Regions from separate parts of the Homo sapiens genome. Here region 1 is linked to region 2. The links come from fine-mapping of genetic effects on gene expression. A gene starts in region 2. The other region holds a variant in brackets. All regions are shown on one strand. Distances are between the middles of the regions. Region 1 has its middle 47 kb from the start of LINC02376. Region 2 holds the start of LINC02376 (long intergenic non-protein coding RNA 2376).

What was found. PIP is the estimated chance that this variant, and not a neighbour inherited with it, causes the effect. A credible set is the group of variants that fine-mapping cannot tell apart.
Region 1: its variant is the best candidate, but not a certain one, in a credible set for the expression of LINC02376 in monocytes after LPS (Quach 2016, PIP 0.70).

Annotation. Positions count from the first base shown.
Region 1 is chr12:127,236,047-127,238,850 of GRCh38, forward strand. No RefSeq gene overlaps it. Among named protein-coding and RNA genes, the nearest start is that of LINC02376, 47 kb to the right of the region's middle. The variant A/G (reference allele first, on the strand shown) is at 1,667.
Region 2 is chr12:127,282,657-127,285,489 of GRCh38, forward strand. LINC02376 (long intergenic non-protein coding RNA 2376) reads right to left here and starts at 1,627. Exons shown (of 4, transcript NR_146537.1): 1 at 1,486-1,627; 2 at 580-980. It overlaps LOC124903050 (a long non-coding RNA gene), which reads right to left. Exons shown (of 3, transcript XR_007063523.1): 3 at 1,992-2,833.

The DNA.
Region 1 (2,804 bases), 47 kb before region 2:
CCTGCTTCCTCACCCCTCGGGCGACAGTTCAGAGTTGTGCCCTGCACCTTCTCATGGAAGGGCTCAGCGGGATTGGGTCCCAGTTGCTCACAGCAGTAAATGGCTCATAAATATACTTTACGTCATCGTGAATTTGTGTCCCAAATGGACTCTGGATGCTCAAGGTCTGGCTTCAGCATCTATTTCCAGGGGATCTCAGCCGAAGATGTTACTGTCTAAACGTTTAATAAAGTTCCCGAAATCATGAAATACTTGGGGTAAAGAAGTGTTTGTGTATGTGTCTGTGTGTCTGTGTGTGCATATGTGTGTTTGTTAATCTGTGTGTTTGTGTGTGTGCATGTGTGTGTATGTATGTGTGCATATGTGTGTATGTGTTTGTGTGTGTGTGTGCATGTGTGTTTGTGTGCGTATTTGTGTGTGTCTGTGTGTATGTATTGTGTGTATATGTGTGTCTGTGTGTGTTTGCATATTTGTGTGTATTTATGTGTGTCTGTGTGTATATGCGTGTGTGTATCTGTGTATGTGTGTGCATACGTGTGTTTGTGTAAGTGTGTTTGTGTGTCTGTGTGGGTATGTGTGTGCATATGTGTGTTTGTGTATGTGTCTGTGTGTATATGTCTGTGTGTTTCTGTGTGTATGTGTGTATATGTGTGTGTGTCTGTGTGTATGTGTGTATATGTGTGTTTGTGCATGTCTGTGTATGTGTGTGCATAAGTGTGTTTGCGGGTCTGTGTGAGTATGTGTGCATGTGTGTGTCTGTGTGTGTATGTGGGTGTATATGTGTGTGTGTCTGTGCGTGTATATGTGTGTTTGTGTGTCTGTGTATGTGTGGCATAAGTGTGTTTGTGTGTGGGTATGTGTGTTTGTGTGTCTGCATATGTGTGCTTGTGTGTAATGTAATGAAGGTGTTTAATTTCATTTCAGGATTAAACTGGACAGAACGGGGGCAGCCCTCACCACACAGCACCATGTAAACCTCTGGGAATTAACGGGAATTGATGAGAATCGTGGCCTGGGGGTACTTTCACCTTCTGCCAGGCTTGGTGTGGCCTCTTCACATAGGCTGCCATCAGAAGGGACCCCTGGCTAAAGGCTTCTTGGTGAGATTTAGAGACATTGGGAGTCTTGCTAGTAAAGACGGAGTAATTTTACGGTGAAAATAATGTCTCACACATCAGTTACGCCAGTCATCTAAATCTCTGTACTTTCACGGTAGAGCTCAATCCATAGACTCTTCCGGAAACTCTGAAATTAGGAACTACTGTAACATTCCTGCTACAAATATAGAACTGAAGTTTGAGGAAGTTAAAAAATCTACAGTAGGTCAGGCGTAGGGGCAGAGCTGGGGTCTTACCCATGCCTTAGAAGCCACTGCTCTCAGAAACGCCATCATGTTGAGTCTATTGATTGGGCCTCGTGAGGTTGGGCTGATGTCATTTTCTGACCACTTCATGCCGTCCAATCTGAGGATTTCTATCATCCCAGAGCTGAAAGCTTATTTTTCACTCTTGCATTTTCTGAAACAAACAAAAAATATATTAGCTGTAATATTTTCTCCCCACATTGTATGGAAGCATTCATCAGTCTTTTCCTCAACGATGCAGTTCGCTGCATTAGAAATGCTTAAGTTCAGACCTTGAATTACGCCCTGTGCGTGGTGACTTCT[A/G]GGGGTGTGGAAATACTACCAGGTGGCAGAGGACATAAGCCTGCAAAGTGTGTCCTGGCCCTCAGAGTCACGTCTTGCTAATCTCCAGCCCCAGAGCAGGGCTTCTCTGGCCCACTCCTGGCTCCAGGCTCTGGTTCCTCTAGGCAGATGCAGTCCCAGGCCAGAACCTAGGGTTTGGTGAGTGGAGCATCCTGGTTACCTATCACAGCAGAACTAAGCTGATGCTGTGGCTTGGATTAGCAACAGTCACTAAAAGGTTTTATGAAACCCTGCAATCCTGTTCAACATTCAATGAAACAAAAATGCAGTGCTTCTGGGCTGCGTTGTAAAGTGCTTTAACCTCAATGAAATCCCTAAAGCAGTGCTTTAAATAATAATTTAAATTGAATGATTGAGATTTGTAGCCCCGCTAGATTTTCAATTTCTTCACCAAAACTTACTCTATTTTTGAGACAGGATGTTCTTTCCTTTCTAATGGGGAAAACCCCAAATGCCACAACAATTTGAGCAACAAGTTGTGAAACAAAGCCCTGTTCTTCTTGTTAGCTCAGTTGTGCATCACAAGACAACATTTATGTGACTTTAATGGATTTACTGGAAGTTTAGCAGGAGACAAGAGAATGACTCTTCAATTATTGTGACAATGCATTTGTTGCCATTAGTATCTGCAAATCGACGTCATGTGTGACATCGATAAGACTGAACAGCACATCTTAGGAAGGGCTCAGTACTAGATGTGGCACCTGAATGGCAGCCAGTTCCTTCCTCACAATGACTCTGCCATTTGTAAAGGCTGGAAAAATACGTTATGGTTGGTATAGCCTATCCACAGCAGGCTATCTCACAGACCCACCTCACACTTACATCTACTCTGGTCATATTCGTGATGTGAACTTGAGAATTCAAAAGTGCATTATTCTGTTTGTCACCTAGATAAAGTCTACCTATATAGCAAGGAGGAAAAAGAAGGCATAGGAGGCAGAAAGTGCTCTCCATTGATTCTTAGGTACATCCACACCTTGGTTCTACCTTCCTTCTCTTTCTTGGAATAAGTCATTCCTTTTAGCTTGAACTACTTGGAGATATTTCCTGTCCCTTGTAAACAAATAACCTGAAACAAGAATATAGCAGATCCTGG
Region 2 (2,833 bases):
GCTTCTCAATAGTATTTATGAGTGAGGTGCTTTGATTTGTTCTATTTTACAGATGCAGAAACTGGGGCGCCGAGAGGTTAAATCACTCATCTGGAGACACACAGCCAGGGAGGATAGTAAGCAGCCAGGATCCAAGCCCACATCCATAGGACCTGAGGCTACAGTGTACCATCCCTCACCTGCTCCCCACTGTGCTTCATAACACCAGGTGCAGAGGACAGTGGGGCCAGAGGCGGTGGTGGATAAGAAGTGACTAGGATGAGGATGTGAAAAGGGCAAATATTCACTTGCCTCTCTTGTGACATATTCACATACCATAGAAAGCTATTTCTCCATCTCTAGCTCCTCAGAGAACTTTCTGTGGAATTGTAATGCATGTCCTTGAAAAAGTGCAGGCAGCTGAAATGCATGACAGTTGAAGCACTTGGATCTCATTGTCAGACTGCGCATTTTCTAACCGTGAAGGGCTTTCTCGGTTTAGAGACTATTAGTTCAAACTCTAAGTAGTCCATTTATTTTGCTCAGAAAACTGTAATGCATTTCCTAAATTTCCTCTTCTGAGGTTTAAAAATAACCTACCTTAGCAGCAGACATCAATTCCTTTAAATCAGTTCCTGCTTGATCATCCAGGTTGTCTCTTTTCCGGATTCACTTTACGTATCCTAGTCCAAGTCACCCCTCTCTGCCCCCCACAGTGTTACTATCAAGAAGGGGGCCAGGCGAGGGTGTCAGACTTCCCTGGCTGTAGACAGGGATCAGATCTGTCATTCTCTGTCATGTGTGACTTGGCCTATGCTTGTGGATGTGGCTTTACTAGGTTCATTGAGATTGTTTATTTCTTCTTTTAATTTTTGAGCTTATTATGAATGGTTTTAGACTTTCCTGAATATCTACATTTTTATCCAGTCTGTTAACATTTTCTGATATTCTTCACTCTTTTGAGATAATTTTAAGGAATTTTTGTCTTTGTCCTGATGAACCTGTAGGATAGAACTTTTGCTATTTTCTAGTGACTATGTTGCTTTTTGAATATCAGCCTTAAACACACATTGACCCATAAACACACCTTGAATCCAATCAGTGGGTTTCTCTCTTTCTAGTTATTTTTTGAGTAGCTCTATCTTTAGGAAGAAAATAAAAGAAAAGAAAAAGCAAGGAGGGAAGAAACGAAGGAAGAAAGGAAGAAAAGAAGGAAGGAAGGAAGGAAAGAAGGAAGGAAGGAAGGAAAGAAGGAAGGAAGGAAGGAAAGAGAAAGAGAAAGAAAAGAAATAAGCCAACAAATTCTTATAGTTTGCTGCCAAATTCAGTGTTTCTAAGGTTTTGAAGACCTGGGGTGACTTCAGGTTTTTTTAGACTTTTTAAATCAATTCGTAATTTTCACGGATTTTGTTATTCTTCAATTTGGGAAGAACAAAAACCTTTTGATGACTTCATTTCCCCTCTTCACATCCTGCTTGCTTATTATGAAAACAAACAACGCAATACCATCATCTCCCCATGAAACCCAGCATGACCTGGGCCTTGCTTAAATCTTCAGGCACCACCACAGACTTGGTCATCTCCAGAAGGAGCTGAAGTGAAGAAGCCGGCAGCCAGCAGTCCCTCCATGGGGCCAAAGGCTCTTGCAGCTCCACCCCGGTTGCCAGTGCCCTGCTCAGGCAGAACACTTGGTGTGGAATCCTGTGTGTTTTTCTATTTCAAACACAAACAGGTGCCTGGCAACCGTCAGGGAGACTGGGAGAGGAGAGACCTATCCCTTCCATGGCCAAGGCACATGCAGAAATGAAAATATTTTAATGGCACTCAGGAAAATGGATGAGACTCTGAAGCTGGAAGCAACCACGCTTTAGGATTTAGCCACCCAAGGCTCAAGTGGCCTAACAAGAAAACGGCACCCAAAGTTAAGCCATGGCTGCTGCCTACCCTGTGTATGTGTTATCGGCCAAAGGGGATCACTGCCCAGTGCACTAGAGGCCAATACCAAGACACTGTTTTTTTTGAGAAAATATAAAAGCTTTTTATTGTACATCAACCAACAAGGAGACAGAAGTACAGCTCAAATCTGTCTTCCTGTGCTGGCTTTAAGGCAGTAATTTTATTAGAAAAGGTTTAGGGGTGGATTCTGGGGTTAGTAGGTAATTGGTAGAAGGAAAAGGGAGGTCTGGAAAGTCCTCAGCCTCACACAGTTATCTCTTCATACCTCCTCATGGGTCTCATGTGCAAATTTGGGGGTAGTTAGTATGAAACTTGTGTTGAAATTCAGGCTGTGACATCAGCAAGCTTGTTCTGTGCAGACTTTATTTGGCCACATTGGTTCCAACCAATTTCAGCCAGTTCTTTTTATCTCATAAGCAGAGGGAGTTTCAACATCTCCACACGTTGTTTCTTTTTTGTCTGTCATCTTATAAACTCAAGAATTGCAGTGAGTTACTAGTTTCTTTAACTCTGGGGCATGACATCACGTGGACTGTGCCAAGGCTTCTTGGGCAGGATGCTCTGTAGCTGAGATCACCCATGGCCACATCCTGGTCTCATTCTTCTTTCTCTCTTCAATTAAAATTGTTTTCCTGTAGCCCCAAGAGCCTACAAAGTTCACAGGAATCTTATGAGAACATGCCCCATTGTCTCATAGGACCAAGCCTTTGTCTGAGTAATGTACATGCTTGTTTGTGTATCTTTTGCCTCGTATTACAAAGTTTGTTCTTGAATTGCATGTGAGCCCCATGTAACCCTGTGAAACAGGAAGTGTTGGCCTCATTGGATCCAATTTTCAGAGGAGGCCCAAAGAATTTAACTGACTTACCAGAGGGCATCTAGCATGTCACCAAAGGAG